Homo sapiens: one gene and its partners. The protein of the gene in region 1 purifies or fractionates together with the protein of each later gene. This does not show direct contact. Each region holds a gene or a part of one and is shown in the gene's direction. Other genes may lie near its edges.

The links.
Region 2: the proteins of SCN2A (region 1) and PLXNA4 purify together in Homo sapiens (affinity purification with mass spectrometry; one large-scale study listed by BioGRID and IntAct). This does not show direct contact.
Region 3: the proteins of SCN2A (region 1) and CDC42BPA purify together in Homo sapiens (affinity purification with mass spectrometry, with the first as the bait; one large-scale study listed by BioGRID). This does not show direct contact.
Region 4: the proteins of SCN2A (region 1) and PTPN14 purify together in Homo sapiens (affinity purification with mass spectrometry; one large-scale study listed by BioGRID and IntAct). This does not show direct contact.
Region 5: the proteins of SCN2A (region 1) and XPR1 purify together in Homo sapiens (affinity purification with mass spectrometry; one large-scale study listed by BioGRID and IntAct). This does not show direct contact.
Region 6: the proteins of SCN2A (region 1) and PCDHGB6 purify together in Homo sapiens (affinity purification with mass spectrometry; one large-scale study listed by BioGRID and IntAct). This does not show direct contact.
Region 7: the proteins of SCN2A (region 1) and ABCC8 purify together in Homo sapiens (affinity purification with mass spectrometry; one large-scale study listed by BioGRID and IntAct). This does not show direct contact.

Annotation. Positions count from the first base shown.
Region 1 is NC_000002.12:165,238,181-165,242,213, forward strand, and holds the start of SCN2A (sodium channel protein type 2 subunit alpha), read left to right. Parts: upstream 1-1,233; 5' UTR 1,234-1,460; intron 1,461-2,879; exon of another isoform or gene 2,880-2,934; intron 2,935-4,033. UniProt on the Homo sapiens protein: Mediates the voltage-dependent sodium ion permeability of excitable membranes.
Region 2 is NC_000007.14:132,569,971-132,573,470, reverse strand, and holds part of PLXNA4 (plexin-A4 isoform 1 precursor), read left to right. Parts: intron 1-3,500. UniProt on the Homo sapiens protein: Coreceptor for SEMA3A. Necessary for signaling by class 3 semaphorins and subsequent remodeling of the cytoskeleton. Plays a role in axon guidance in the developing nervous system. Class 3 semaphorins bind to a complex composed of a neuropilin and a plexin.
Region 3 is NC_000001.11:227,031,993-227,035,492, reverse strand, and holds part of CDC42BPA (serine/threonine-protein kinase MRCK alpha), read left to right. Parts: coding exon 1-22; intron 23-698; coding exon 699-838; intron 839-2,077; coding exon 2,078-2,159; intron 2,160-3,500. UniProt on the Homo sapiens protein: Serine/threonine-protein kinase which is an important downstream effector of CDC42 and plays a role in the regulation of cytoskeleton reorganization and cell migration. Regulates actin cytoskeletal reorganization via phosphorylation of PPP1R12C and MYL9/MLC2.
Region 4 is NC_000001.11:214,348,200-214,350,401, reverse strand, and holds the end of PTPN14 (tyrosine-protein phosphatase non-receptor type 14), read left to right. Parts: 3' UTR 1-1,702; downstream 1,703-2,202. UniProt on the Homo sapiens protein: Protein tyrosine phosphatase which may play a role in the regulation of lymphangiogenesis, cell-cell adhesion, cell-matrix adhesion, cell migration, cell growth and also regulates TGF-beta gene expression, thereby modulating epithelial-mesenchymal transition.
Region 5 is NC_000001.11:180,635,022-180,638,521, forward strand, and holds part of XPR1 (solute carrier family 53 member 1), read left to right. Parts: intron 1-3,500. UniProt on the Homo sapiens protein: Inorganic ion transporter that mediates phosphate ion export across plasma membrane.
Region 6 is NC_000005.10:141,414,521-141,418,020, forward strand, and holds part of PCDHGB6 (protocadherin gamma-B6 isoform 1 precursor), read left to right. Parts: coding exon of another isoform or gene 1-1,208; exon of another isoform or gene 1,209-2,931; intron 2,932-3,156; exon of another isoform or gene 3,157-3,339; coding exon of another isoform or gene 3,340-3,500. Other genes in the region: PCDHGA10 (protocadherin gamma-A10 isoform 1 precursor), read left to right, coding at 1-1,091; PCDHGB7 (protocadherin gamma-B7 isoform 1 precursor), read left to right, coding at 3,340-3,500. UniProt on the Homo sapiens protein: Potential calcium-dependent cell-adhesion protein. May be involved in the establishment and maintenance of specific neuronal connections in the brain.
Region 7 is NC_000011.10:17,403,846-17,407,345, reverse strand, and holds part of ABCC8 (ATP-binding cassette sub-family C member 8), read left to right. Parts: intron 1-136; exon of another isoform or gene 137-216; coding exon 217-458; intron 459-557; coding exon 558-724; intron 725-1,782; coding exon 1,783-1,852; intron 1,853-2,676; coding exon 2,677-2,834; intron 2,835-3,500. UniProt on the Homo sapiens protein: Regulator subunit of pancreatic ATP-sensitive potassium channel (KATP), playing a major role in the regulation of insulin release.

The DNA of each region.
Region 1 (4,033 bases):
TAAAGCAATCTATTCAGTATAACTTTAGCACACAGAAAATAAAATATTATGAATCCAAAGAAAGTGTAGCTTGCAATCATGTATTTTATTAAATGTATTTATCAGCATTTTGGCTTCTGATGGACATGTGTATATACATATTTTGTGGATAAAAAAATTACTTAACTATTTTTATATTAGATACTATCAATTATTCTGGCTGATCTGGGGACTTTTAATGGTAAATTTTATATCAAATCTGACAAAGACAGTATTTCAGACCCGTTTAAGACCTAGAACTCACCATGAGTTCTAAAATTGGTTCTCAGCACCATGGACAGCGTTACTGCAATAGGAAATTAAAGATCGATTTGGCCCCAAATTAAAATGGTGTTGTAAAAAAGTGGGAGAAAAAAAATGCCTATCCTTTTACTTCAAATTTTAAAAAAATGATCCTGGCCTTCACAACTGTTCATAAGAAGAATAATTAATTAAACAAACATATATTGAGAACATCATATGCTCAGTAAAACTTTGATTCTATAAATGGTGTCATTTACCAAATGGATTCTTTTGACAATTTAATTTTCTCTTATCTCTCTAAGAAGATGTAACTACACACTATAGTATACTACTACAATTATCAAATTTCATGTTGCATGTAACTTGTCGTCTGTATTTTTGTAGTTAGATTAGATTAACTAAAGATTTTTCAAGTTTGCCTTTAAGTCATTTAATTTTCCTGCCTTATCTTTAACCTTTCAACATTCCTCCAAACAATAGCAACACAAGTGTTATGTGTTAACTTCTCTAGTGACAAAAACTTATACTTCTCCACAAAGAGATGTGATGTTCATTATCAATAAGCTTGACATCTAAAATTGTTTTATAGGAGATACATATTACTTTTTCAGATGGTATATAAAGTTAAATAAATCTTAAGTTTTCAATGATGGGAAAAGCTTCCATTTAGTTTAAACATAATGTAAAGAAATTTGAATCCCCAAAATAGAATTATAATTCTAAAAATTCATACTATAATTCTTCTTAAATGTTTAAATTACAGTTAATTAAAGTAGTTGATTTCAAATAGAGTGGAATTATGGGCTGTACATCATTTAATTTTATGTGCTGACTGCTACATAGCCAAAGGAACGTGAATTAAGATGGTTCCACTTTTGACCAGGAGATGGAGCTGTCATGTAAGATGCTGCCTTTATTTATTTATTTTTCTAATTTAGCATGCTGTTTTCTAACAGACATTGGGTACCATCGAATGACTGTCAGAACAGAAAGCTAAGGCAAAGGAGGGAGGATGCTGTGGTCATCCTTTCTTGTTTTTTTCTTCTTTAATGAGGATAGAGCACATGTGAGATTTTACTTTCTACTCCAGTAAAAATTCTGAAGAATTGCATTGGAGACTGTTATATTCAACACATACGTGGATTCTGTGTTATGATTTACATTTTTCTTTATTTCAGGTAAGCCAGCATGATTCTATTTTTGACTTATCCACGGATTGTTATCTATGTTAAGAATGACATTTAATATAAGATGTGTGCTTTGTTAGCTTGTATTCAGATCTAAGAGATTCAAAAGCTCTAATTCTAGCTGTTGTGCAATTTAAAATCTTCCTAGGCTGAAATGAGCTCTGACTATGACATACCGTGTTTTATTATTTCTTTGGCTTTCTAGCTGTTGGTCTCTGTCTCTGGCTGTATTTGTTTACCTTTTAAAGGTAAAGCTTTCAAAGTGAAGGATGGGTTTTCCTTTCACAAGGGAAATACTGCTCCTTAATGCAGTGAACAAATTGTAGAGATATAATGAAGCAGATTAACATGGCAGTGGCTCTGCCAAAGCTCAGGGCTGAGCCTTCTGATTGCAGCCTCAGAGGCAAGCCAATATTCTGAGTCCAAAGGCCTTTTGAACGATTTCTGCTGGCTATGATGGTACAGATTGTTTATGTCTTTATTTTTACCTCTTAGAAATAATACGTAAGTCATTTCTCCCACATGAATCAAGATTTATGTAATGTGTTTAATAGACTTGGAATGAGACTATAGACCCTCCCTCCTCCCCCAGTATGGATGTGAGGAGTATGCTGAACACAAATTAATTGCCATGAAAATTGATTTTTTCTGTATTTTATTGGATTTGGGATAATAGAACCGTGGCCATTTTAAATAGTTGATATTATAGAAGGTGCTCACATTTTAAATTATTTTAGGTCATGTGACATTATCTGTGTTAAAGAGTGGAATGACTCAGGAGGTGGAAGTTGCATGCAACAGCCTTGCTTCTCTCTGCTGCTTCTCGTGATTTCCCTTAAATCCTTGCTTGATTATTATTAGAATAACAGGAATAAAGACATATAGAAATCCTATATTTAAAAACCACTGATTTTCATTTAGAGAAATTTAAAGAGATTTTACAAATATTTTAAAAATAGTTTTGTAAGATTGTTTTTAAATGCCTCACTTCTTTCTCCTGTGGAAAGAGCTGTGTGTGTGTGTGTGTGTGTGTGTGTGTGTGTGTGATGGTGGAGGTGGCAGGCGGTGGAGGTGCATCAGGATGTTTTTATCTCAGTCATTGTTTTCCTGTAAAGAGGTAGTTTTGCCATGTCAGAGGTTGTGAAAGCTATGGGGAATGATTTTATAAAATGGTTTGGACAAACCATGAAAAAAACATGTTTTTTAAATGTGTGGAATCTATAGAGTTTGTAGTTCTACATGGCTCCATATACATGGAGATTTTTAGAATTACAGATATTTAACCATTTATCCCCATTATCATTTAAAGAAAAGCAATTGTAATTGAGAGATAAGGTGGATTTCCCAGAGTCACGTACTAAATTACAATAAGGCAAGGCTAGAACAGTGATTGACAGTTCCACATCTTCCATAGCAGTAACACAATTCACCTCTAGTGTGAACATATCAGGATGGCATAGACCAGGTATGATGATATTCACTGTGCGTGTGTGTGTGTGTGTGTGTGTGCATGTGTGTGTGTGTTTGGTTATATTCTGTAAAATAGAGTTTCTTTCAGTATACTGTTGCTCAATGGCATATTATATGCAGTGCTCAATTTTCTTAGGTTTCTTGTCAAAGCATCCAAGAAAACTGAATGACAACTATGGAAACTCTGTTTCTTAGTATGCCTTTTTCATTATTAGGTGGTGTATACTCTTCTACCCTATGCTCATGAATGATGTGGATGGCCACATGGCTTTCCCTCCTACCTAATAGAAAAGATTGTACATATAGGTTAATCTATTGACAACTATAAGAATATCATCTCATGTCCAAGCCTTTCCTCCTTTGTTCACTTACTAGGCACAGGCTTTACCCTACTTCTTCAATATCTTGAGAAAAGAAAGGGATTAAAATGTGTCATGTCTACATATATTTGTGGAATACCACGTACCAACCAAGTGTCCATGGTAGAGATAAAGAAATAATTAGTCAAGGAGTTTACCTCAGGGAGGTTAACATGCAAATATACATGTGCAGATACCACTATATCTCAAAATAAGGAATGAAGAAAGATGAGAAAGTGAATGGGACAGGAATATCAGCACCTATCTTGTGCCAGGCACCATGTTACATCCTGGGATTCAGAACAAAACAATAATGTTAATTTCTGTCCATGGGGGGCTCAGAGGAAAAGATTTTAGGAGGATGTGACAGTTAAATTAGATCTTTAAGAGTGAGTTGGATATAAATAAAGAAAAACAGAAAGTTGCTTATTCCAGGTACATAGGTGAGGCAAGTAAATACAAGAAAATGGAGAACTATAGGCATCGTATAGGGAAACTGTAGAGAAAGGTAAATAACCCAATCTGTTTGAAGCTTTTGTTGTCGGTGTTGTTGTTGCAGTTGTTATTTTTTTTCCCCTGGGGCAGTAAAAGTAAGGATAATGAATTTGGCTTTTGGTGTTATGCATTTGACATACTGACACATACTCATACACTGGGGTGTTTTATAAGGAGCTGAACATGTTATATCCATGTATCAGATTAGTGGTTAAGGCTGAATGTATAGATCTGCATGCA
Region 2 (3,500 bases), on another chromosome or scaffold:
TCATTAACCACTCTTGATTCATAGTTATCATCAGGCTTTGATGCAGAGAAATCGCTGTGGATCTCTCTCCTCCTAGCCAGCTAGGGGGCATTTCTTAGCTGCTTCTCCCCATCCTCACCTAGAGAAGGCATACGCAGACAATGCACATCAGAGACCTGTTGGAGCGGCTCTGTGGTGGGTTACAAGGGGGCGGCAGCAATACAGAAAACACGACCATGATCTTGGCTCTCATTAGACTATGCAACAGATGTGCCAGCGTCTCCTCTCTTCTTATTTGTGTCCAGTGCTACCCAATGTGAAACTGGCTCAGACCCTGGGCTATTGAGTAGGTTCATTTCCCTCCCTTGACACCTCCCTTCCTTTTCCTCCAACCCCCACTTCTCTGCCCCCACCACTTGCTAATCTACCTCTTGGCTTTGTGCGCACATCCGCCAGCCCATTCGCCCTCAAATTTGCGGCACTCCAAGAAATCAATATAACATGAATTTAACGACAGCTGGATGATTAAGTGTTATTTATATTTAAAAGCGGCATTTTAAAAAGACGTCTCACTAATAAATGGCTGTTTGGGAGATGCACATGATTAGGGTAATTGGCCTATAGGCTCTATCGAGCTATGCTTGGTCCACACAGGGCCCTGTGGACAGGACACTGTCTCTTTAAAAGCTGCAAGCTCCACTGCTCCCTCCCCAGACTCCCACCTGATCCCCTCTAGCTGCACAGACTTTTTCTTTCTTCTTTCATGTTGTCCTCACTGCCCAGGCTGTACCATTCAAGTTGCGGTAGGAAGGTGGAGCCCACAGGGAGACTGAAGGGGGCTCTGCTGCTGAGTGGTAAGAGATGGATTTTAAAACGAAAGGCAGGCAGGGGTCCTGATTCCCCTGGAACAAGAGCCCAGGCCTTGTTCCTGAAGGAGGAGGCTGCTTCCCTGCATGGCATGGAGCAGCCTGGAAGAAGAGTTTCCTGAGTCCCTATGTGAGTCTGTGTATGCCCCCACACACTTGTCCGGTCCTGTGGCATCAGCCTCCCAAAGGAAGAGGCTGTGAGGATGTTAGTACTGGCTTCAGTTCTTGTAAAAACAATGGAATGGAAGATGATAATTAATGATGATGGTGGCCAATATTTATTGAGCACTCATTTGGTTTAGATACCATTTAAGTAGTTTGCCTCATAACAACCCAGATAGGCTATTACGGTCCCTATTTCCTCCAGGAGGAAACTGAGATGCAGGAGGTTAAAGACTTTGTCCCAGATCACACAGCCACTTAGTGATGGAGCCAAGTCTCACTTGTGAGCAATCTGACCTTTCTCCTCATCACTGTGCTGGTTTCCTCCTTAGAATATATGTGCTCACTGTACTGCTGCCCCCTTGGGAGGTTTATGGGTGAGTGCTTGGGAGGAAGTTTAGAATATCTGGTCCCTAGTCTCTTGCACTACCTCTGTGATGCCAGGCAAATGTATTTATTCACTGAGCCTCGATTTCCCCATTCATCAAGGGGGATGAGTCTTCTCCTTGGCTGTTGGTAGGTTATAAAATTGCATGGATCATTCTAGCAGAATGCTCAGGTCCTGAGGGTGACTGTCACCTCATTTGGCAATTCCCATTTTCTCCCAGGAAAAAATGAGTAAATGAATGAATGAGTGAAGTTCCCATCTTTACTTTAGACTCTATGAGGCTCCAATTCTGATAGGAGTCTAATTCTCCCTGGTGACTGCTTCAAATTGCTAGTATTGTGGAAACAACACTTCCTCATTTCATCTTTAAAATAGCTGTGCAAGGTAGGTATTGTTTATTCCCATTTTGATAGCATAGAAGCTAAGGCTGAGAAGAGAGTTTAGGTGAGATGTCCAAGGCGCCAGGTTGCTAAGGGATGGATGGTTTTTTCACTCTTGGGCAAAGATTCTTACCATTACACCACTCACGGTAGGTACTTGACACTTGTTCATTCATTCATTTATTACTCCTAGAGTTTCTGACTTCAGGATCCAGAAGCAGGGAAGAAATCAGTGCCTAGGGACATCATGCGGTGCTGGGTGCCTGGATCCTATGGTGGTTGCAGCAGAGACTCATCGCATGTTGGTGCCAACGGACCATGTCAGGGGATAGCCATCCTGTAGCACTTAGAGGAATTTTGATAGGTCCCCATTTGCATGAAGAAAATAATTCAGACCTGAGATGGTGCAGGCTAAGGCAAGGCATTAGGAATTACATCCTGATGCAAAAAGGTGTGGGTGTGAATCCCTGAAGGAGCCCATGGGCCTGGTTGGGTTCTGTCCCACTCCAAAGCCAGGGCTAACCTCAGTCCCTCTGGTCTGAACATTTTAGGAAAAAGCCACAAGTGAGGCACTTTGGTTACTTGCCTTTTTTTTTTTCTTTTTCTCCAAAAGACAAACTTTTATTCCATGCATTATTTCTTTGACTTCTCTACACTGTGAGGTGAGTAAAAGTTCTGTCCAACTTGAGGTGGCTAGAAGGGGTGCACGTGGAATTTCATCACCTCCCCTCTGAGGCAGCAGTAGGAATGAGTGGATAAAACATTGGGAGGTAAAGTCCTGTGCAAACTGAAACCAACAGGTGTTGGAGAGATCTCAGGCATCCTCTCTTTTCCTTCTAAGCTTGGATCTTCCCCTCCCCCTCTATGGTGTTTCCTCCATGAACCAGGATTCGCAACAGCAAATTGGATTTTGGGATGTTTTGTCACTCCAACACAAAACAGATCACTAGCTAAGAGGATAGTCTCCGCAGTCAATGCGCTGAACACAGCCTCGCTGAATCAATTCCCGAGGTCTTACAGGGTAGAGTATTTTCATTATGAAGTATGAGGAGAGAAGCAGTGGAGGAAGAGGTCGCTGGAAATTTAGGACAGGAAAACCATGGCAGTTGAAAGGCTTTCCTGGTCTTCGCTCAAGATCAGTTCCTTATCTGACATACTCACTGAACTCTTCTCGAATGAGCACAGCTGGATTTCCCTTTTGGTAGTGTGGAGGCTCAAACTAGAAGGTGAACCAATCATTCCTTGGCTTTGACCCAGAGGCCAAGAGGAAAGAAGTAAGCAAGGCATAGCTGGTGGATTGCTTCCGTTCTTGTGGCGGGGTTAGAGAGTGAGAGAGGAGACAGTAGCAGACGTCAGGATGTGCAACTGAAGCAGCCTGCCTGGAATGTCAGCTAATGTTGCTAGAGTCAGTTGGAGTTCGTTTTCTTCCTCTCCATCTCAGGCCTGCTTTCCTGAAAGTAATACTTAAAATAGACTAGAGTTTCCCAAAGTATATTCTGCGGGGGAGTCAATAGGCATTACATGCAAAAAAGTTTCCGCAGTCAAGTAAGTTTGCAAAACCCTGGGTGTAAAGCAAAGCTAAAGATACTCCTTGCTGCAGGACTTCTCAGAGCCTTTAATACACTCACATGGATTGTGAAATCACAAAAGTATATAAACTGTGTAGTGGACCTGGAATCCACTGAGAAACACTGGACTAAGACAAGCACTTTGCTATGACTACTG
Region 3 (3,500 bases), on another chromosome or scaffold:
AGCATATGAAGGTCATGTCAGGGTAAGTATGATTAAGTTGGGTTTAGATTAATCCTTTAAGATTTATTAATGAATTAAAATCAAATCCAGTTAGTTTAAGAGGATAGTTCTTGATGGAAAATTAAATGAATAAAATTCATCTAATAATTTTATTTCATCTAGAATAATGATTTGCAAACAAAAACCTAGCTTTTACATGGAAATAAGTTATAAAATGTCTCAAGTTTTTCCATATTGTTCCTATCTTGTGATGAAATCTTCATAAAGGAGTTTGTGGCCCCTGCTCTTGCAAGAGAGGTGGCATATGGTTATGAATTATGAGCTATTAAGGCATAGTCTTGTTATCTTGGGTAGTATTTACAATGTAAGCTGAACTTCATCTTACACCAAGTTTGACTTTTATGCTATTTAGAAAGAAACCCATGAGTGTTATTTTAATGAAATATGAGTGAAAGTTAAAATGGTACCATTAAAATGTTTCTCAGAATAAAAAGTCATTCTGTATTTGAAGAATGTGTTCTCACATTTTCTCATAGCTTAATGATATGTGTCTCATCTGCTACTTTACCAACCAGAATGGCAGACTTATAAAACGTGTACATTATCTGTAGGTCTTCACCATGCAATTACATATGTAATTTAAGGGATATTTTCATTTGAGTTGTTTTGGCTGTTTGTCTGTCTAAAACAAAACTAAGATTCCTAAGCCAGCTGGAGTGAAGAAAGGGTGGCAGAGAGCACTGGCTATAGTGTGTGACTTCAAACTCTTTCTGTACGATATTGCTGAAGGAAAAGCATCTCAGCCCAGTGTTGTCATTAGTCAAGTGATTGACATGAGGTAAGAGTTTGAAGGTAAAATTATTTGTATCATTGCAACATAGGAATTTTAAAGTTTCTGATTTTCAAAAATTGTGTTGCCATGGTTTATTTAAATGAACTAATTTCGTATTTTCTAATTTGCTAATATTGCTATAGAAACAGAATTGAAAATAGGAAGTAAGGTGTATTTATAGGACAGGTTGGTATGTGTGTTGAGTGTGAGGGGCTAGGAGTTAAGGAAAAAGAAGTTGGTGTCCCAAAGACCTGTGTAAATGGGGTAATGGAGGCCTACCATGTGAAGTTTATATTATCACATCACCTAAAGGCTTAGAGTATAATTTCAATGTGAGGAAAGAAAATAAAAATCAGAAAGGCTTCTGGAAAACATAATCAGTAAACATTTAAGTAAGTACAGCCCTTGAACACTTCTGGTCTCATTTTTCAGATTCTTCCTGTGTTCCTTAGTTCTCTCTCCTTTACCTTTTCTCCTAACTCCAGGCACTATCCTTGAGTGATCATATTTACTCACAGCTTCAGCCATCTCCTCTGCATTGATGACTCCCAGACTTGTATCTCCAGTTCAGATATATCCATCCATTGCTCAAAACCGGAATTTCTAGCTGTGACTCAAATTGGCACTTCACATTGGCATCTCAAACGCATTATCTTCCCCTACAAATATGGAACATGACAGGATAGATGCAAGAAATATTGGCAAGAAAAATCTGATAGAACCTACTAAGGGACTGAATATAGATAGGGAAAAGAATCACAAATAGGACTAAGGTGTCAAGCCTGTAAGACTAAGGGAGTCATGGTACCAACAACAAAATTAAGGGAATCACAAGAAATTATTGTGGAGGAAATACGTTGTAGATGTTGAAGGAACAATAAAATATAACATGAGCTGGGTTGAGGGTACTTAAGATTTATTATGGGAGGCAAGAGGGTCCACTGGAGGCTCCAGAGACCTACCAGGGTTCAAATCCCAGTTCTACGTGTATACTTAACTGGCCTTGTGACTGTGGGTAAGCCAGCAATGATTTCTAGCTCTTGTATAATGTGCCACTAGGAAGTTATTCTTGATAAATTATTTGGGGCACTATTAATTACAATGGGGGAAAATTAATTTTTTTAAAAAATTAAATTTGGGTGTTTGGTGCAGTTAAGCTTTGGGTATGTGTTATTTGGATACACACCCCAAACCACACACACATAGCCACATATAGTAACTTTTAATGCTTTGCTTTTCGTTCAGGGATGAAGAATTTTCTGTGAGTTCAGTCTTGGCTTCTGATGTTATCCATGCAAGTCGGAAAGATATACCCTGTATATTTAGGGTAAGTGTGTATGCTGTAATTTGATCACTGAATTATGTGTTTTTAATGAGTATATTTTGCCTCCCTATATAAATCATAAATTCACTATAAGTAAAACCAAATCTTATATTCTTTTATATATTCCATATCATCCAGTACTTGAAGGTATAGAAAATTGGTGCTAAGTATTTAATTAGTGAAAGACCTGGAGAAAGCATCAATATATGGCTTATAAAATATGCTTCCTGGTAGATAATATTTTTTAGTTCCAATTCAATTTTTAAATAAATACTACCACATGGAAAATTAGATAAGTGTGAGGTTTCTCAAGTTTTTAAAAAAATAAAAATGTCTGTCTTGAAAAATTAATGCGTTTGTTACTTACTGCTTTGTAACAGCCATTCCAAAACTTAGTAGCTTAAACCAACAGTGATTTACTATTTTTCACTATTCTGTGGACCAGCTGTACAGTTCTTGTGGTGTCCGCTAGTGTCACTGATGTGACTGCATTCAGCTCATTTGGGACCAGAACATCTAATGACCTTGCTCTTACATCTGGGTGCTGGCTGTTAGCTGGGTGATCTCAGTTCTCCTCTTTGTGAACTCCCTCCATGTGGTCTCTGGTCGTCAGGTAGGCTGGCTGAGCTCCCAGTGGCTGGCTTCTAAGAGAGCAAAATAAGCTGCCAGGCCCTTTGAGGACTAGGCCCAAAACAGGTATAATAACCCTTCTGCATTCTGTTGGTCAAAGCAAGTCATGAGGTCAGCCCAGATTTAAGGGGAGGGGAAATAGACTCCACCTCTTGATGAGAAGAATGGAATTCCTTAGGAGGACTTGTTGGTAGGCGTCTTTGGAGGCCCTTGCCACGATGCAATCTTGAGTGGGTAAATTAAGACAATAGAGGTTAAAAAAAAAAACTACTGCCCAATTGTTATGCCTATCTCCCTATATTTGTCTATGAATCTTGTATCTAAGGAAGGTCAGGCAAAGATTATACTTAGTCTCTTAGTTCCCAGACTGACAACTATTTATTTTCCTCCCAGCCACCAAGGGAGCCTACAGAGGCCCACTTATCTATAACTGATTTTCATAGTGTGAGTTTATTGTCACTGCTACTTAATAAGGAATTCTTTACTTATGATAAGGAATTCATATAGGTAAAATTTAAAACTGCTCTGATAGTGTTGTTTGTATAATGATAAACCTTCATTTAAATATTAATTTAAATGGTCAAATCTTAATGATAATGCGAGTTATTGTTGTGAAGTAACAGAGAATATATTTCTGAGCACTTCTGACCTTAAAACAAGTCACAAGTCAGTATGGTGTGGCGCTTAAGAGCATGGGCACAAGATCCCAGACTT
Region 4 (2,202 bases), on another chromosome or scaffold:
TAAAACAATGATGACAGCAGTACTTAATATGTATTTCGAGGTGAACTTATATAGATTGAGAGAGGCTGCATTTGGCAGACTGATGTATAGGAAGACCCATTTGTTTCTAGCTTCTCCCTGCAGGGAAAATGCTTTCGTCATTATAGCCTCTTTACACAGACTGGCCATTCTAGTGAAACAGGTGGTAAACCTTTGGGCTGCCCAGAAACATTTTATCTGTTTTCACTTACCTAGGAAGGGGAAAGATTAGCGGGTCATCCAAAATCTGTATGTAAGCTATCTTCATTTTCTTCCCCAACCTTCTCCTCCTGGGAAACACAAATGCTATCTCATCTGACAAAAGGTTTTAGAGGATAAAGCTGAAAAGATTGGATTGGGATCTTTTTGTGGCTTGGGGCGGAGCCTTTTGCTAAAATCTCAAGAATGCTGCTTTGAGTTTAGCTAGGGTGGCTCTCAGAACTGGGGTGCCTGGCATTCTCAGCATTTCTCAGGGGCCTCCCACCTCTGACAACTGCAGTGTTAGCTAATACATACCTTGAGCATAGAACTGAATGCTGTAATTCAGAGCCATTTTTTTTTTCAACTTGAACATTGTACAATTTTACTGCAATTTCCTTTGAACTTTCTTGCCACTGTTTGGAATCTTAAAAATTCATTAGCCTTCTCCTTTCTGACATAAAGCTACTCTTCATCAGAGATGAGTTCCTATGTATGTCCTTTGTTCCTTCAATAGCTAATTAATGTGCTTGAGGATACTTCAGTGGAAAAAAAGGTTTAAATATGCAAATTACTAATAAATGTGTAACCTTATGTAACTTGTGTTACATCAAGTAACAAGCTAATCTAGTTTGTTTCACTGGACTAGGCTTGTGCTCCCTACTTCAGTATTTTGATGCTTTCCTTGATCTTTGTTTCACAAAATGTTGTGAATTTTGGTATCATTCAAAACAAATGACATTTATTAGGTTTCATTTTGAAACGATGTACAGACAAGTCCCCAACTTAGAAACCGGTTTGTTCTTAAGGTTCTTGCGTCAGCCCATAGAAGCCCACTGACCTCCACCACAGCCCAAATGGAGGGCTGTGATAGCCAGATCTGGTTGGCTTTTGTGGGCTGACCCAGACATTTAATCACCATCTCTTATGTTGTTGCCGTAAGAAATGCATTCCAGGTTGGGACTTGGGATCCTGAGAGCACATTCGCCCCCTGTGGTGGCCGCTTGCCACCTTGCAAGATGGAAGCCCAGTCTCCTTACTACCAAACTGTAGTTGTAAGCAGAGGGAGGGGTGAGATGTTTATAGGACATTCCCTAAGCTGGGGAGTGATTTTTATCACTATTCATGTCAACTGTACTTTGGTATAGACTCCCTATCAATTTAATAATATGAAAAGCCTAAAATAAAACTATGCATGCTATTCTATGTGCTATTTTATATCAGTAAATAAGCTTATGCTTGCCAGTTGTATACACAGTTATGAGGTGTATAGAACTGACTTTGACAGTATTTTTTGCACTGTTTCCTATCTGTTTTTATAAAGTCTTATTTAGATATTGGACCTTGTTGATGTTCTCACTGCCCTTGTGCTTGCTATAAAATGTTTCATATGTGCCTTTACAAATGTGAGATCTTTATTCTAACCTTTTTTTGTAAAAGATATCTATTGATTTCCATATGCAATAAACCTTTTTTTCAGAGAAAAGTTACATCTTCTCTTTTCTGTACTGTATATGTTTGCATTAGTTGAAAGTGCCTGGGAAAACCTGCATGCTTTGTTTTCTAAAGCCCATTTATTGCTACCCAGTTTTTAGTCCTGCATAACCTTATCATACTGAAGATTTAGTTTGAAATTCCCAAGGTTGTCACTGTTAGAAGAAACCTGAAAGGGGTGATCACTAGGCAAGTGGAGTGAAGAATACATAGAAATGGGTCTTTCTCACAAATGCAGCAATAAGCCTCGTTAAGCTCCAAGCCCCTACTCACTCCTCCTTCACTGTCATTTACTCAGGTACCAAACTGTTGATGTGGAAAAGGCAGGCACCAACCAGGCTGCTGTAGAAAATTTAAATTCTTGCTTTTGCCTTTCAGCTTTATAACAGCTCAACTTGTGTCCAGGTTTAAAGGTGGCTGTCCTGTCCCAGACTTTCAGCCAGTAACCACCATAGCACATTCACGGTGAACCCCTCATATGTGGGTAGATGC
Region 5 (3,500 bases), on another chromosome or scaffold:
TTTTATTCCTTGAACTGATAAAATTATTAATGATAATAACCCATCAATATCCTGAAAATTATTATGTTTTTTAATTTAAAAATAAGTTGTGGTGTTCATAGATTCAGTCTTCATAGGCAGAATAATAAAGCATAAAATAACAGACCAACATGGAGAAGCCATATAAAGAAAATCTCTTCAATCCATTTGTAAGTAGTTTGTGCAAAGAATAAACACAAACAAGCCGAGACTATTCCTGTTTCCAGTAATCTGTTTGAGTATAAATTTTGACATGTAAAATAGAACACCGGTAAATCTTTGTAAGAGCTTTTTTAAAATTTAGAATTAGTGACTATATATTTTAAAGCTCTGCAATTGATTAATCAAAATTAACTGAGACTGGTTTCAACCAAATAGACTAATATGACCATGTTAATATTTTGCAGAATATTAGCAGAAGAAGCAAATATATTTGGTGCCTTAGGCTGCTGACTTTCCCTAGGGCCTTGTGTTTCTTTGGTTTCTCAGGACCCAGGAATGATTTTTTTCAGTGTATCCTTTGTTTTGTAATAAAATAACAAGGTTTCTAAATTACAGGATTTTAGAGCTAAAAGGGAATTTAAAGATTATCTACCTTGTTTTTCCAGGCAAGGAAACTAAGGTCCAGAGGGGTTAAGCCACTTGTTTAGGAATATGTGTATATGTCTCTTGAGCATGTGTAAGCATTGAGAGTCCGGTCACACTGTGTGATCCTGATGAAACCATTTCTTCTTTTAGCTAAGAAACATCTGAGTTTCTTTAATGTTAGAGAATTGGACTTGATTTCTAAGCTCACAACCCCCGTATTATTTAAGGACTCATCCAGCTCTAAAATTCTGTGTTTTTAAATGGTTTTATTATGTTTGGTATATGAAGAGGACAGAACTTAACAGGAGTATTAATAGCATCCTTTAAAATTAATAATATCCTTTCAAAAATTTTTGATATTTTGATCTGTGAATAAGATGTTAACCCAGTGAAACTCTCTTATTTAACTTAAAAAGGGATGACGATGAATTAATTTTTTATTGCAGGATTTTGGAAAGGAGAGGTTCTGCATGAACTACACTTCCATTATATTCAGGTATAAGGAGACATTACCATAACATTATTAACGATTTTCATTTATAGAACTCTCCCATGGGAACACTTGTGTTACAGGCTTCAGTTTCCCAAAGGTATTATGTTGATTAGGTAGGTTTAACTTGAGTTGCTGCAACTTGTTTGAAATATCCAGTTTGGCCACCCGATGGGGCACAAACCACACTTTTTCTTTCAGACACTTTTGTAAATCAAAGTATAGTATAGTGTGTTTAAGATAACACTTGTAAATGATTGCGTCAATGAGATGGTTGGCATTTACAAATGTTTCTTAAGTGAGTGAATGAATGTTGTAAAGACAGGAAGCTATAACTATTCTTTATCATCTTTAAGTGTGTCAGCGTGAGTATGCTGGAAAGATTATACTTGTCCGTTTATCCTGAAGGTTGGTTTTGGATCAGCTTTTGGGTGAAGGCCCAGATCATAAGAACCTAAGAATCTTATTTGACCTGGGGTGACCATGGAAACTTAGTCCTAGCTTCAAATTCAGTCCTAATCTGGGAAGCATTTAAGAGAATGATTGAGTTGTGCTGGGTAAGGATTTCAGGTATATTTGAGTTGTAGGCCCCAAAGGAGTGTGCCCAAAACTCCCATGGAGTAAAGAGAAGACAGTATTAGAAAAGTAAGGGGGCTGGACACGGTGGCTCACGCCTGTAATCCCAGCACTTTGGGAGGCCGAGGCAGGCGGATCACTTGAGGTCAAGAGATTGAGACCATTCTGGCCAACATGGTGAAACCCCATCTCTACTAAAAATACAAAAATTAGCTGAGTGTGGTGGTGCATGCCTGTAGTCCCACCTACGCGGGAGACTGAGGCAGGAGAATCGATTGAACCGGGGAGGCGGAGGTTGCAGTGAGCTGAGATTGTGCCACTGCACTCCAGCCTGGCAACAGAGTAAGACTTCATCTCAAAAAAAAAAAAAAAAAAAAAGGAAAAGTAAGGGAAGACAGAACTGTTAATTTTACTTATTTTTATGCATAAGAAAAGGAAGAAATACAATTTTACTAGTATTTAATAAATGGATTGATGCAGTACCCCTGCTAAGGAGGTCATGCACAGGTATACTGAAGAAAACAGAAGGATTGCCAGTGGCTTTTTCACTTGTTTGTTCGCTTTGGCAGATAATCATTAATCCAGTTATGGGTGCATAATTAAATGAATCTATAAATTATTATCTAGTTTTAGCCAAATCAACCGCTAGGAAATAGACATGTCTTAAAAAGACTCCTGTAAAGATTCCATAACAGTAATACCAATAATGCAAGCACAAGTGAACAACAAGAAAATGACAACAGAGCTGAGGTTTCTCCTTCTAGTACTAGCTTTTTGGCAGCCAAATTACAGATAAAAACAATAACACTTTAGTAGACTTGACAAGAAGTTCGCCAAAAATTTAAAAATTATTAAGCTAATTCTTTTTTCTTTTTCCTGAGACGGAGTCTTGCTCTGTCACCCAGGCTGGAGTGCAGTGGCCTGATCTCAGCTCACTACAACCTCCGTCTCCCAGGTTCAAGCCATTCTTGTGCCTCAGCTTCCCAAGTAGCTGGCATTACAGGCGCGCGCAACTACATCCAGCTAATTTTTGTATTTTTAGTAGAGACAGGGCTTCACCATGTTGGCCAGGCTGGTCTCGAACTACTGTTCTCACGTGATCCGCCTGCCTCAGCCTCCCAAAGTGCTGGGATTACAGGCATGAGCCACCACTCCTGGCCTAAGCTAACTCTTTGAAGTAAGGTTTTACATCTACTGTCAGTCACAATGAACTTGACTGTAAGTGTATATATTATGAGTATTCTGCCTTTGTAAGGTCTGTTTTTTCAGTTTATAGCCATTAATTAAGTTTCAAAATCAAATGAATCCTGAACTTTGAACTGGACCTTTGAAACACTGTATCATAAAATGTTAAATGAAGGTTTTATTTATTTAAAAAACTTTTTTGTTTTTTTAATGAAGATTAAAAAAATGAAACTTTTCAGTTATGTTCTCTCAAAGCATTGTTATTGATAATTTCTTAGATCAAAAATATTTTTGTACTGTTCATAAATGAAAGGTAGAAATTATTTCATCCTTGTGTCATCTTTTTAAAACTTCTATTTTAAACAATTTTGTTTTACATTGTACACAGATACAGATGGGTATAATTAATAAATAAATATGCATATATTGGAGATACATAATAAAACTTTTTTTAAATAGGGATTTGACATAATAAAAGTTTGGAAGACTTTGCCCAACTTGTACAGATTAACCACAGCTGGTTTGTGGGTTGCCTGGTATTGAGGTGGCCTTTGGGAATGAGAGAGTGTCAGACTTCACCAGGGTTCTTGCCCAGTGTATTTGCCTTTTCAGGTCTTTCCTTATCTAGTAAATGCTAAAAGAA
Region 6 (3,500 bases), on another chromosome or scaffold:
TCAATGACAACCCACCTACCTTCTCTCAAGTCTCCTACTTTACCTATATCCCAGAGAACAACGCCAGGGGTGCCTCCATCTTCTCAGTGACAGCGCTGGACCCGGACAGCAAAGAGAATGCCCAGATTATTTACTCCCTGGCTGAAGACACCATCCAGGGGGTACCTCTGTCCTCATACATATCCATCAACTCAGACACTGGCGTCCTGTATGCACTCAGATCCTTCGACTATGAGCAGTTTCATGAGCTACAGATGCAGGTGACAGCCAGCGACAGCGGGGATCCTCCACTCAGCAGCAACGTGTCGTTGAGCCTGTTTGTGCTGGACCAGAACGACAATGCGCCCGAGATCCTGTACCCCGCCCTCCCCACAGACGGTTCCACAGGCGTGGAGCTGGCGCCCCGCTCCGCAGAGCCCGGCTACCTGGTGACCAAGGTGGTGGCGGTGGACAGAGACTCCGGCCAGAACGCCTGGCTGTCCTACCGTCTGCTCAAGGCCAGCGAGCCGGGACTCTTCGCGGTGGGGGAGCACACGGGCGAGGTGCGCACGGCGCGAGCCCTGCTGGACAGAGACGCGCTCAAGCAAAGCCTCGTAGTGGCCGTCCAGGACCACGGCCAGCCCCCTCTCTCCGCCACTGTCACGCTCACCGTGGCCGTGGCCGACAGCATCCCCCAAGTCCTGGCGGACCTCGGCAGCTTCGAGTCTCCAGCTAACTCTGAAACCTCAGACCTCACTCTGTACCTGGTGGTAGCGGTGGCCGCGGTCTCCTGCGTCTTCCTGGCCTTCGTCATCGTGCTGCTGGCGCACAGGCTGCGGCGCTGGCACAAGTCACGCCTGCTGCAGGCTTCAGGAGGCGGCTTGACAGGTGTGTCCGGCTCGCACTTTGTGGGCGTGGACGGGGTTCGGGCTTTCCTGCAGACCTATTCCCACGAGGTCTCTCTCACCGCGGACTCGCGAAAGAGTCACCTGATCTTCCCCCAGCCCAATTATGCGGACACGCTCATCAGCCAGGAGAGCTGTGAGAAAAACGATCCTTTGTCTTTGTTAGATGATTCGAAGTTTCCTATAGAGGATACCCCATTGGTTCCAGTGAGTTTTATTTTCATTTTTACTTTTGTTAAAAAAAAAAAGATTGGTTTTTACTTTGAAGTTTGCGGCATGATGGTGGAAAGTGTAAATGCTAAAACACTGATGAGTAGAATTTGATGTTTATTAAGGTTTTTTTTTTTTTTTTTTTTTTTTTTTTTTTTACTTTCTGGTAAAATTCACCTAGTCTCAATCAAGGCCTATATATCATAAGGCTTTGTTATGATTAGCTTTGCAGAACCTTGTAGTTTATAGTGTTGTTGAGTACAATATTGACAATTCCTAAGACAGACTTCCATACAGAAGTGCCTGTCAATTTATATTTCCTCCTGGGTGGTCACATATTGAAACTCCAGCCCCTTAAGCAACCCTCTTGTTCTGAAGGCAGGTCTGGTAAGAATAGGTAAGTATCAGAAAGAAATCACCTCTGGAAACACAACCCAAATCCAAGAATACTCAATGCAGTTCTTCCCAAGGAGAAGGGCAATAGGCCTTTTTCAAACTACATTTTATATATTTTTCAATCTATACTTTGTGGTGATAGTTGCAGTTGAATATACTAAGTTTTTCATTAATATTGAATTAACAATTTATTTATAACAATGTATGCTTAGATTTTTCCAGCCCTATTTATAACTGATAACACTGCAGTATCCTTTTTGCATACAATTCTCTAATTTCACACTGCTATGTGGAAGATATAGCATTTTAATTTAACTTTCATTGCTCAATAGGGATCCTGAGGAGGCTATAGAGGGTGAAATTAAGAATATTTGGGATTCTGCTTTTGTCTTTTTTGTTAAATTTTCTAGTGACTAAGGCTGAAAGTAAATATGGGTTGGGAAGACAGATAAATTTGTACATGTTCCCGAGAACAGGAGCAAGAGATATATGACAAAGCTATTTCAGTGGCTCTTTAATGTATAAGGAGGCAAACACCTGAAACTCTGAAAACTCTGAAATTGAGAGGCAAAATAAACTTAGAGTCAAGAAAGAAATGCCATTTCTGCAGATCAGAATATAAACACCAACCACAGCTGTAAAAAAGAAAAGAATATATGCAACGAAGGGAAATTATATAAACAAAGGATCATTGGAGGTACTGATGAGTTCATTTAGTTCAATGAAAATAGTGACGTATTAGGTAGATCTCTTAATTTTATTACTAGTATTCTACTAAATGTGGTAGTATAAAGTCAAAAAGCATTCCGAAGTTTCTCAAGACCCTTATAATTCCATGATTTTTTTCAGGTCAGTCAACATTTGTTGAATGATAGGTCTGTGGAAGGAAAGCACACTCTTTAGGGTCATAGTTATTAACTATTAAACCATTGAAACTATTATTTTATATTTGTGTTAATGAGAGTCAAAATTATTGTGCATTCATCTCAAATAATTCTATTATTTTGAAAAATACAGGTTTTTTTTTTAAAAAAAACTGCTCTTGACATTGTAGCTATTGTGAGAAAATATTTTGATTATAATTATTTAAAAGCAATACAGGACACCCTGGATGATGGTAATGACTAGGGCAATGGTTGCATTCCAGTACTTAAGTATGAAATAAGGAATTATTACTTTCTGGGTGAATATAGGCTAGAATTGAAGACAAAAAAATTTGTTGCTTATCTTCAGTACTTCCAGCTTCATAGATAATTACTCTTAAAAGGAACAAGAATGACTGCCTCTGGATGGAGGAATTGGATAGCAATGGGCCGTGGGATAGGAGACCTATAAACCTTCATGCTATATTATTTTGTGCCTTTTTAAATTTTGAAGAAAAAATATTCATTTATTCAAGATATATGTAAATTCAGTAAATAAAAAGATATGATAGTTATGACCAAGTGGAAATATATTTCCTGATGTAAAAGGAATCACTGAGGAAAAAGATTAAAATATTTTGGCTGTCAACTCGTAGTTTAAAAAAAATTCCTTGAAAGAGGTAGAGAAAAGTCAAGTTGCAGTCCCACACAGAGCCTCTGGGCGCCGCCGTCGGCCAGTGCAGAGCAAGCGCTGACGCCGGGGATCCCTCAGCCTCTAGCCTGGGATTCCCTGCGCAGCCAACAACAGAAAAGAAAACCAGCTCCCACACAGAGGCTCCCGGCTGCGCAGACCTTGCCCAGCACACCAGATTGCCAGCTCCGAGACCCGGGACTCCTCCTGTCCTGGGCCGAATGCTCTTTTAGCGCGGTAGAGTGCACTTTCTCCAACTGGAAAAGCGGGGACCCAGCGAGAACCCGAGCGAACGATGGGAGGGAGCTGCGCGCAGAGGCGCCGGGCCGGCCCGCGGCAGGTACTATTTCCTTTGCTGCTGCCTTTGTTCTACCCCACGCTGTGTGAGCCGATCCGCTACTCGATTCCGGAGGAGCTGGCCAAGGGCTCGGTGGTGGGGAACCTCGCTAAGGATCT
Region 7 (3,500 bases), on another chromosome or scaffold:
AATGGGACTGGGAGTGAAATTATGGCCTGAGGTCTGATCAGCCACAGAGAGGCTAAGGTTTGGGGTTCTGGGTGTGGTGCAGTAGTGTGCCTTTGATTAAATGGCTTCCCTCTGTGTGCCCCCGTTGTCCCCTCAGTAAGTGGGGATAAAATGCCCTGATTCACCCTCAGAGGGATGGAAATGTGTAGCCACAGAGTGGGTTCTTGCGGCCTGCAGAGGAGGCAGCTGAGAGCGAGGAGGATGACAACCTGTCGTCCATGCTGCACCAGCGTGCTGAGATCCCATGGCGAGCCTGCGCCAAGTACCTGTCCTCCGCCGGCATCCTGCTCCTGTCGTTGCTGGTCTTCTCACAGCTGCTCAAGCACATGGTCCTGGTGGCCATCGACTACTGGCTGGCCAAGTGGACCGACAGCGCCCTGACCCTGACCCCTGCAGCCAGGAACTGCTCCCTCAGCCAGGTGTGACTGGCGGCCCATGGCAGAGGTTGGGAGTGGGGATGGGGGAAGGGCTGAGCCCATGGGCACCCTGGAACTCCAAATCACTCTCTGCCTGTGAAGGAGTGCACCCTCGACCAGACTGTCTATGCCATGGTGTTCACGGTGCTCTGCAGCCTGGGCATTGTGCTGTGCCTCGTCACGTCTGTCACTGTGGAGTGGACAGGGCTGAAGGTGGCCAAGAGACTGCACCGCAGCCTGCTAAACCGGATCATCCTAGCCCCCATGAGGTACCCGTCTCCCCTGGCCAGGCTGGGACTGTGAGCAAGTCACTGTTCTCTGAGCCTTAGTCTTCCCATCTATAAAATGGGGATATACAACCTGTCACAAGCTTGTGGGGGTGACTCAAGGAGACAGTGTGTGTAAAAGTGCCCTCCTTGTGCAAGAAGCAGGGAGAAACTGGCATTTACTCAGCCAGATACTGTGATAGGCATTGTGTGTGGTTAGCTCATTTAATTGTTACCATGGCCCTTTAAAGTGAGCGTCTGCACATCCAAGTAAAGATTGTTTTCTCCTCCCTAAGTGGGTGTAATTTGCCCATCCCCACCCATGAGTTCAGCTCCCTGCCCTCCCCTCACTCTCTCTCCCTCAGCCAGCCTCAGGTTTTGACACTGGGGGAACAGGTAGCTGTTCTATTAATAATTTCCTGTAATGGGATGGATAAAAATCTCAAAGGCCACTTGATGTCAAAGAGGTTTAAAGTTGTCCCTGCCCAATTGGTTGGCCAACTTGGCTTAAAAACACAACAGGCAAACAGATTTTCTGGCCCCTTGTCGAGGCTAGACCTCACAATCTAACTGCACTTTTTACTTTCCAGCCTCATGAGTTTTCTGTGGCCCACAGATATGGCCTCCAAGTTTATTTACTTTTACTCTCTATTTGCCCCAGCTCTGTAGTTCTGAAACTCCCTGGTTGGGGTTGGGCTGACTCTGGGTCAGCCAGCCGGCAGGCTGTCCCCAGGGCCCTGTTCCTCTTGGCAGGTTGTCCCTCTGGAGAGGACTCTGTGTCCCAGGAGGACAGCTGCTGAGTCAGGCCGAGCCGGCAGCTGAGAAAGGCGGCAGTCGTCAGATGGGCTTGAGAAACTGAAAGGCTAACGAAAGGCCAGCGCCCCTTTGGGCAGCTGCAGGAATTCACGGGGATACAGGCCAGATGTCTACAAATTGGCAGAGGATGCCAGACCCATGAATGACTCCAGAGACACTTACATGAAATAATTAACTATCTCATTCAGTAAACAGGAAGTAAATCAATGGACAAATGAGTAACTCTTCCTCTGGCTGCCTCTTAGGTTTTTTGAGACCACGCCCCTTGGGAGCATCCTGAACAGATTTTCATCTGACTGTAACACCATCGACCAGGTACAGAGGACCGTGCCACACTATCCCCCCTTCCAGAGACACCTCGGACCCCTGGGGGCTTCTCCTGTCTGAGGCTGGGTTCCCCAGATCAGGTGATCACAGCCCTCTGGGAAGAAGCCAGTGTCCCCGATCCGATTATAATGCTGCTTCAGGGCTGGGGCCTCCCTCGTGGGAGCCTCACAGTAAGGCTGAGGGAAACCAGATCCCTTTAGCTTCCACCTGAGATCCCACTGGCTTTCTCTAGTAAAGTTCCAGCATATTCTGAACCAAGGTGGCTGATTGTATGGAGAATATTCATTTTGATTCAGCCTGTGTTCTTTATTTACCATTGTACCAGATGGTGTGAAAACAAAATCTTGATTCCTACCTCAGGGAGTTTACCTTGTAGCTGGAGAGATGAGATACGTGCCTATAATAAAGGGAGAGCAAGGCCGGGCTCAGTGGCTCACTCCTGTAACCCCAGCACTTTGGGAGGCGGAGGCAGGCGGATCACTTGAGGCCAGGTGTTCAAGACCAGCCTGATGGCCAACATGATGAAACCCCTTCTCTATTAAAAATACAAAAATTAGCCAGGTGTGGTGGCAGGTGCCTGTAATCCCAACTACTTGGGAAGCTGAGGCAGGAGAATCATTTGAACCCAAGGGGCAGAGGCTGCCGTGAACCGAGATTACGCTGCTGCACTCAAGTCTGGGCAACAGTGAGACTCAGTCTCAAAAAAATAAAGGATCAAAAAATAAAGTGAGAGCAAAACATGGCGGCCAGTAGCACTCTAAACACAGTCAATACCAAAATTCACCTCACTCTCTCCCCCTCGTCTCCCTCAGCACATCCCATCCACGCTGGAGTGCCTGAGCCGCTCCACCCTGCTCTGTGTCTCAGCCCTGGCCGTCATCTCCTATGTCACACCTGTGTTCCTCGTGGCCCTCTTGCCCCTGGCCATCGTGTGCTACTTCATCCAGAAGTACTTCCGGGTGGCGTCCAGGTGATGGCCTCAGGGGTGAGGGGTGGGAGGTGCTTTGCAATGTGCAGTTTGGTGTACTTGCTAGACTCATCGTTATGAGAGTAATAGGGTCGTGTTCCCTCCAAAAAATAAAAACAAAAAACAGAAATGAAGGAAATAGAAATATCCACATCTTATTCCACCGCCCTAATATAATAGTCTGCCAACACACGCACACACTGAGGTTGACATCTGAATTATTTCCTTGGGCGATATGGTCAGGACTGGAATTGCTAGGTCATGATAAATGCACATTTTATGCCCTTCATTCATTTTGCCAACATGCTTCCCAGGAGGGTTGCATCATTCTAGTGGTCAGGCTGATTGCTGATGCATGAAATCGGCGGGCACCTGATTCAAGCAGTGTTATGATAACACCTCCCAGCCCACGTGAGTCCAGAGTGTAGCTGTAAGCCTTGACTTGAGGGAGCCTCTCACAGCCATTCTCATGGATCACATTTGCCCTCATGAGCTTTGGATCCATGCACGCCTCTTTCCTCCTCAAAATTTTCTAAGAATGTTCTCTAGGGAGTTCTTTCTGGGAGTGATTCTCCCAGATTCATAGAAACTCATAGATTCAAAAAATTGTAGGAAAAAATTTAAAGAACGTCTAGGCCAGTGTTTCTCAAACTGCCAATTACAGCCCAT